Linked DNA regions of Homo sapiens. The protein of the gene in region 1 interacts with the protein of each later gene in a pairwise test. Each region holds a gene or a part of one and is shown on either strand. Other genes may lie near its edges.

The links.
Region 2: the proteins of CEP295 (region 1) and EXOC1 interact in a two-hybrid assay, tested with the Homo sapiens proteins (2 studies listed by BioGRID and IntAct).

The regions. Positions count from the first base shown.
Region 1 is NC_000011.10:93,695,173-93,700,640, forward strand, and holds part of CEP295 (centrosomal protein of 295 kDa), read left to right. Parts: intron 1-309; exon of another isoform or gene 310-324; coding exon 325-462; coding exon of another isoform or gene 463-501; intron 502-1,147; coding exon 1,148-1,245; intron 1,246-1,509; coding exon 1,510-5,014; intron 5,015-5,468. UniProt on the Homo sapiens protein: Centriole-enriched microtubule-binding protein involved in centriole biogenesis.
Region 2 is NC_000004.12:55,860,148-55,863,647, reverse strand, and holds part of EXOC1 (exocyst complex component 1), read right to left. Parts: intron 3,238-3,500; coding exon 3,107-3,237; intron 1-3,106.

The DNA of each region.
Region 1 (5,468 bases):
ATCATTTGCTACTTCAAGGTAGTTCTTCAGTGGTGATCAGGGTTTCACTGTGCTCTCAGAAAGTAGAAATAGTTAATGTATTTATTCTTTCTTTTCCTTCTGCCTTTTTTTACTTCTATCCCTTTTTCTCTTTTTCCCATTTCCCATCTTTTACTCCCATCCTCAGTCTGTCAGTGATAACAACAGAGATAAAGCATCAACACTTACTTCTTTGAAAATTGGTACCCTTGGTGAAGAAACCTAATTTCTTTTAAATGGAACGTGTGTTATCTTTGCCTTTGTATGAGTTTGTTGTTAATAGATCAATAGTATTTTGTTACCTAGATAATGGAAATAGAAGAGCAGAAGCAAAAGCAATTGGAATTACTTGAACAAATTGAACAGCAGAAATTAAGATTAGAAACTGACTGCTTCAGGGCTCAGCTGGAAGAAGAAAAAAGAAAAAAAACTCAACCGACTGGGGTAGGATGCAGAAAATCTCATCACTACATAAATCATTTGGTAAGGGGGGCAAGAAAATATGAGCACTTGTAGCGTTTAGAAAAGTAAAATGGATGGCTGGGCGCGGTGGCTCATGCCTGTAATCTCAGCACTTTGGGTGGCCGAGACAGGCAGATCACTTCAGGTCAGGAGTTCGAGACCAGCCTGGCCAATGTGGTGAAACCCCATCTCTACTAAAAATACAAAAATTAGCTGGGCATGGTGGCACGTGCCTGTAATCCCAGCTACTCCAGAGGTTGAGGCAGGAGAATCGCTTGAACCTGGGAGGTGGAGGTTGCAGAGTGAGATTCCATCTCAAAAAAATAATAATAATAAAAGTAAAATGCCTTTGTAATTCTTATTTGGTCTTTTTTTGATATAATGTATGTATATATGAATAAATTTGCATCAGTTACGGCTTTCATCTTTCAGTTTCTATAGGATACTAATAGATACGACCATGGTTTGTAGGTAATGCGTATGTTGAGCTTTTGGACCTGCACTGAAGGAGAATGACAGATTAGTTCATTTCTTACTAATGGAAATGCCAGTCATTTTATAAAAAATAAAGCTGTATGGAAGTTTACAATTATAGAACTGTATGTAAAAATACTTCAATACTTACTTCTAAATTTGCTTTTTAATTAGTAACTTTGTCTTTTATTAGGTTGGCATTGCTCCAGCATCATGCCCTGTAATTTCTGATGAAGATAGTCATAGGCAGATGATTCGTAACTATCAACATCAGCTTTTACAACAAAACAGGTATTAGCTAGGGTATAATTTATATGTGATCGTATGTGGCTACATTTTTAGGATTTATTGTTTCATTTATATGAGGATCTAATTTGGATTTCCTTAGAATTATGGCATTTAGAACTGCCATTCTTAAAGGACAATGTGAGTGTAATTTCTTTTCACCATGAGTATTGCCAACCCTAGATTGCTGTTTGTTAAATTTAATGTATAGACATGGGGCTTTTTATTTTTCATTAAAAAACAATAATTGTTTGCTTTTGTTTTTGGTAGGTTACACAGGCAGTCTGTTGAAACAGCCAGGAAACAATTACTTGAATATCAAACTATGTTAAAAGGAAGGTGCCCATCGGTGTCAGCTCCATCATTGATAACTGATTCTGTTATATCAGTGCCATCATGGAAATCTGAGAGACCGACTGCTATATCAGAGCATTGGGATCAAGGTCAGAGACTCAAGTTGAGTCCTAACAAATACCAACCCATACAACCTATACAGACCTCCAAATTAGAACAAGATCATTTTCAGGTAGCGAGACAAAATCACTTTCCACAAAGACAGGTGGAAACAACAGAAACATTACGCGCTTCAGATATTTTAACCAATCAAGCTTTAGAATCACAAGAACATCTAAGGCAATTCTCTCAGACTGAAACACAACAGAGAGACTATAAATTGGTCCCCAAAGATTCTGAGACACTTTCAAGGGCTTTGTCACATGACAGGCAGCTAATATCACAGGATGCTAGAAAAATATCTGAAACATTTGGGGCAACAACTTTTCAAAGTTTAGAATCCCAACAATTGTTCTCAGAGAATAGTGAAAATATATCTTACCATTTAACTGAACCTTCTTCATTTGTACCACTGGTACCTCAGCATTCTTTTAGTTCTCTGCCTGTTAAAGTTGAGTCAGGAAAAATTCAAGAACCCTTTTCAGCCATGAGCAAAAGTACAGTTTCCACAAGCCATTCTATAATCAGCCAAATGCATGATAGGCCTTTGCTGCCGTCAGAGAATATCACAGCCCAGCAAGGTAATATGAAGGCCCTCCAAGAACAGTTAGACCTACAGAAGAAAGTTCTTCAGGCAACTCAGGAAGCTCAGGAACAGTTGCTTTTGTGCAAACAGAAAGAAGTGGAACAGCAAACGGGCCTCTCGGTATTCCTTCCCTTGGTAACTCCAGATTCATCTGCTTTATTGCCTTCTGCCAAAGCAGATTTGGGGAGAATCCAGGAATCTTCACCAACCAAGAATAATATTGCAGTTTCCTCAGACCATCATGTGATCTCACAACTTCAGGATAAGCGTTTGAGTCTTTCACAGCCTATCCTATCACAGCAAAATAATTTTAAATTTCTCCAAGAGCAGTTGAATATTCAGAAGGATAGCCTTCAGGCTAGGCGAGAAGCCCAGGAAGTATTGTATGTACATAAACAGAGTGAATTGGATAGAAGAGTATGTTCCGAACAGGCTGAGCCCTCTTTCCCATTTCAGGTAGCTCAGCATACATTTACTTCACTACCATCTGCTGATACAAAATCTGGAAAAATACAGGAGCAACATTCATCTAAGAGCGAGAAAGGACTTGTTTCATGCCAATCTGACATCCCCATATCTCAGGATGGGTCTTTGAGTTTCCTACAGCAGTTCCTACCTCTACATGATAGTTTGAAGTTGCTCCAAGAACAGTTGACTAAACAGAGGGATACTCTTCAGGCTAGGCATGAAGCTCAGGTGGAATTACTTTTACATAGACAAAGAGATTTGGGGGACAGTAAGTCTGGGCTGGTGAGCTCTTCATCCTCACCAGTGGTTGTTCAGCATTCAGTTGCTTCACAAGCTTCTGCTAAAGCTGAGCCTAGGAGAATTCAGGAGCTTTATTTATCTGAGAAGGAGAATGTAGGTCCCTCCTGTCATTTGATAATCCCAACATTTCAGGATAAGTCTCTTAGTTTTCCACAGCATAGCCTGGCACAGCAAGAAAATTTGACAATACTCCAAGAACAGTCACAAATACAAAGGGTAATACTTGGTGCTAAAGAAGGAACTCAGGAATTTGTACACACAGAAAGTGAATTGGAGAAAAGAATTTCTTCTGAACAGACTGGCACCTCCTCATCCCTTTCCCAGGTGGATGAATCTGAGAGATTCCAGGAATGTATATCAATCAAGAGTGACAGTACCATTCCCTTAAGCCATCCTAAGATCCCAAGATGTCAGGAAAGACTTTTGAGAGTTTCACAACATATGCTACCTCTACAAGATAATTTGGAGGAACACCAAGCATGGCTAGACACTGAGAAAGAAGCCTTTCATTTCAGCCAGAAAACCCAAGAAAATACATCTTCTGAACAAACTGGTTCATCTTCATTCATACCCCAGTTGGTACAGCTTTCATTTACTTCGTTAGCTTCAGCTGAGTCTGGCACAATCCTGGAACCTCTTTTTACAGAGAGTGAAAGTAAAATTTTTTCAAGCCACCTTCAGATCCCACAATTGCAGGATAGGCTTTTGAGGATATCGCAACTTATCCAGCCTCAACAAGATAATTTGAAGGCACTTCAAGAACAGTTAGCTACACAGAGAGAAGCCATCATTCTAGCTAGACAAGAAGCTCGGGAAGAATTACTTTTACATCAGAGTGAATGGGAGGGAAGAATATCTCCCGAGCAGGTTGACACCTCTTCCTTACCCCTAGTACCACAGCATTCATTCGCCTCATTACCTCTTAATGAATCTGAAAGAAACCAAGAACCATGTTCAATTAACAGTGATAATATAGTATCCTCAGGTCACTCAGAGATACCAACATTGCCTGATGGGCTGTTGGGTTTATCACATCTTGTTTTACCTCAACAAGATAATTTGATTGCACTTGAAGAACACTTGCATGCACAGACAGATTTCCTTCCTTCTATTGAGAAAACCCAGAAAGAATTGGTTTTGTCAAAACCATGTAAATTTGAGGAAAAGGTATCTTCTGAGCATTTTATCCAGTCTCACCATGGTGATTTGCAGGCACTTCAACAGCAGTTAGATACACAGAAGAAAGCCATTCGATCTATACAGGAAGTCCAAGAAGAATTGCTTTTGCAAAGATTAAGTGAATTGGAGAAAAGGGTATCATCTGAACAAGTTTGCTCCTCTTCATTTGTATCCCAGGTGCCTGTTGCTGACTCTGAAAGAACCCAGAAGTCTTTCCCAACCAAAAGTAATGATACTCTTCCCTCAAGTCATCGTGAGATTCCAAGATTACAGGATAGACTTTTGAGTTTATCAAAGCCTATTCTGCCTCAGCAAGATAATATGACAGCACAATTGGATGCACAAAGGGAAGTGATGTATTCTTATGAGAAACCCCAGGAAGAACTGTCTTTAAACAAACAAAGAAAGTTGAACAAAAGTGAATCTGCTGAGCATACTATCCCCTCTTTGTTTCTACCCAAGGAAACAGAGCATTCGTTTATTCCACTACCTTTTGCAGAAGCTAAACCTAAAAGCACTTGTGAATTGTATTCATCCCAGAATGAACATGCAGCCCCCCCAAGTAATCCTGTGATCCCAGGGTTTCAAGATAGACTTTTGAGTTTTTCACAGTCTGTCTTAACTCAGCAAGATAACTTGGGACTTCAGAAACAGTTGGATCTACAAAGAGAAGTTCTGCATTATAGCCAGAAAGCCCAGGAAAAATTGCTTGTACAGAGACAAACAGCATTGCAGCAGCAGATACAGAAACATGAAGAGACTTTGAAGGATTTCTTTAAAGACAGTCAGGTATGTTTTAAACCTGAATAATAATGAAACACTAGAAGTTTAAACCCAAATCAGTTTTTAATACTAGGATTACAAGTTTTCAGTTATTGAGAAAAAGTAGTTTGACCTTAACTGTGCTTTGATTTTTCACCCTAAATGATGTGGAAGTTAAAACAAAAATCGATCCACCCACATGGTGTTTATGAGGTTAATAGTTACGTGAAGTCCAATTAATTTTTTTAAATTTTCTTTTGTTTTTGCTTTTTTTTTTTTTTTTTGAGACAAGGTCTCGCTCTGTTGTCCAGGCTGGAGTAGAGTGGCACCATGTCGGCTCACTGCAACCCCTACCTCCTGGGTTTAAGTGGTTCTTGTGCCTCAGTCTCCCAAGTAGCTGGGATTACAGACATGTACCACCATGCCTGGCTAAATTTTGTATTTTTTTTTTTTTAATAGAGACAGGGTTTCCCCATGTTGC
Region 2 (3,500 bases), on another chromosome or scaffold:
AAAGTGCTGCTAGGTCTCAAAGTTCTTTATTTTTTTGAGACAGGGTCTCACTTTGTTGCCAAGGCTACAATGCAGTGGTGCAATCATGGTTCACTGCAGCCTCCACCTCCTGGGCTCAGGCAATCCTCCCAACCTCAGCCTCCTGAGTAGCTGGGGACACGGACACATACCAGCATGCCTAATTTTTAAAATGTTCTTGTAGAGACAAGATCTCCCCATGTTATCCAGTTGATCCTCCTGCTTCGGCCTCCCAAAGTGCTGGAATTACAGGCATGAGCCCTGTTCCTGGCCTAACGTTCTTTCATGTGATAAAGAAGCTCAACCAATCTGAGAGAATTACACTATAGTTTCTTCAAGTCTCTTAAGCCACATTATAGCAATAATCCACATCAGGCTAATATTTCTCCCTTGAATGAATAGAACTACTTGACTATTATATAAAAAAACAGGCTGGGCTTGGTAGCTCACGCCTGTAATCCTAGCACTTTGGGAGGCCGAGGTGGGTAGATTGCTTGAACCCAGGAATTTGAGACTGGCCTGGGCAACATGGCAAAACACTTCTCTACAAAAAACACAAAAATTAGCCGGGTGTAGTGGCATGTACGTGTAGTCCCAGCTACTCGGGAGGCTAAGGTGGGAGGATGGCTTGAGCCCGGAAGGTGGAGGCTGCAGTGAGCCAAGATTGTGCCACCGCACTCCAGCCTGGGTGACAGAGTGAGACCCTGTCTCAAAACAAACAAGCAGACAAACAAACAAACAAACTTATGGATGTATACTTCACATCCAAGGAATTAAAAAATAGGCTCAAATATTCTTAATGTTCTACAGGGTAAAAGAATAATAATATATTTGATTCATTTAAAGTGTTATTTGGGGGAAATGTAAATACATTAAAGTAAGGGAAGTTATATCAGACTTTCACTGTGAAGAACTGGAGTATCTCAGGAATCAGGACTTGACCTTTGGTACAACAATCATATTACAGCAGCATGGAACTACTAATTAGTTCAATTTATAGCTTAATAAACAGAATTGAAGCGTCAAAAATTTAAAACCTGCATATACAATGAAAAGGTAATTGCATTATTACTTACAAAAAAACACAACAAGAGTATTGGCAACCAATATGAAACTTGATGGGAAATAATCTCTTCCCTGGGAATATTTCCCATAATACCATAAAAGAAGCTGAGTGCTCCAGTGGCAACACTCACAAATCAATGTGTGATACTAAATGGCTAATGTTAAGTTATGTATAAAAATTTTATGTTTTATATCCATATATAGCATACACACACCAAGGTGCCTACATAAAATGCAAAAAAAAAAAATCCATTAAGCAAGTCTGCAAGAGGCATCAGCTGTGAGAATGCATTCAAATAAGCATTCAGCAATGTTACTGAATTATGCAAGTCAACAGGGTTACGAAGTGCAAAACTACTGAAGGGAAAAATGTTTTTTAATAAAGGTGCAGTTTTAAAAACCCTTAAAGTGTTTTGTCTTAACAGAAAACAACCAGAAAAGTTTCCACTCTTGATCCCTCCCCATGGTAATAAAAATTACTTACAGAAGTTTTTTTTTGTTTTTTTTTGTGGAGACAGAGTCTCACTCTGTTGCCCAGGCTGGAGTGCAGTGGCGCAATCTCGGCTCACTGCAACCTCTGCCTCTCAGGTTCAAGCAATTCTCTTGCCTCAGCCTCCCAAGAAGCTGGGACTACAGGCGTGTGCCGCCACGCCCAGCTAATTTTTTGTATTTTAGTAGAGACAGGGTTTCACTGTGTTACCCAGGCTGGTCTTGAACTCCTGAGCTCAGGCAATCCACCAGCCTCGGCCTCCCAAAGTGTTAGGATTACAGGCGTGAGCCACCACGCCTGGCCTAAATTATTTTTAAACATCCCATTATAATTTTCTTTCCAATCTCTAGCTTTCTAAATTTCTGTCAAATCCTGTTTCTACATTTCACATTTTTCTAAGCATTGGGTGCTCCTTAGGGATAAAACAAAGGGCCAGTAAGCCTAGAATACTTAAAGAAAAGGCATGATTTACATTTGGAAGAAATCTGAATTATACAGATATAGAGGGCTCTCCTCAAATTGTTCTTACTTCATTTTTTTTGCACCCAACTCAACTACCTGTCATTTTGTCCAGATTTTTGATCCTTGGAGGTTTGTACCAAAGTAAGGGTAAAATCAGAATTTTATTTTAACAGATTGCTTTACACAGGCAGTTTTTTTGTTTTTTGTTGTTTTTACTTTGTGCCTTTTTAGTAAATGTATGAGATTTGTAGAGTCAAAGAGCACCTGTAGTTTCACTAGTATAAGCCTTGCTATTATGTTCATCCCATCGACATACAAGTAGTTGTGGTACAAAGTATTCTCTTGTGCTATGGAGGTGTGTTAGGGCTGCAGAGAAAGATGAAGGGCAGAGTGAGAGAGGGCCAGGGGGAGGAAGCACCTAATTTAATCAAAGGAGGCCAACTTGATTGCTTTGAAAAAAGGGTATTGCTGTGAAAGCTTTGAACTGTCAGGAACATAGGTGGTCCTTTAATGTGATTATCACATTAATCACCTTTCTTGGAGTTTGAGTGTGGTTTATCTATAACGTGTAAGTTTATATCTTCATAGATCTTATTATCTACATTCCTTAAAATAAGGTATGTAACCCACTATCATTTCTTTTTTTTTTTTTTTGATCCACAAACATCAAAGCCATGGTGGCCTCAAAAGGCCAGTCTGGCTGCCCCAGCTGGTGATTCTATGTTTACTCATGAAGACTAAGGAAGGATCACTTTGGTTATATGATTTTGATTAAACAAACAAACAAACAAGCAAAAAAAACTCATGACACACCACTTTAAAATCCATACTATGTATAGATTTTATACAAATTATACTTAATCTAAACACAGAAATGTATACAGTCAAAGTAATTTTTCTCTAGTTTATGTAGCTTGTGCACAAACATAATTATAGCTTAAAAAAAGCAAAAAAATAAGAAAACAAACATATATATTAATTTGTTTTTAGATCATTTTAGAATATGTAATACCATGTTATAAAATGAAAGATGCTTTCTGAACACAGGTCAAAGAACTGAGAAAAACCTACTTTGATAGCATCTTTGGCATCTACCACAGCAAGATCTCGAAGGGCCCATGCAATCTGCCTTTTGTAGAAATCTCCCTTATCGGATTTCTTGACTTTGACCACCTTAACCTGCACAGGGCGTTCAGTTGTCACTGTTGAGTAAAACGCACACTTTTATTAGAAATATTACCCCTTTCACTCATTCTTCATTCACTCATTGCAAGTATAGCTTTCAGGTGCCTAGTAGCTGATACTAAAAGAGGTGTAATACTTTGCAACAAGTGCTATGACCGAGGAAAGCACAGAATCCTAATAGAAGCATCTAAGTCAGACTAGAAGATCAGAGGAGATTCCTTGAAAAATAAAGGAATGATATATTAATAATAAATTCAGACCAGTTTTAAAGAAAAGTATG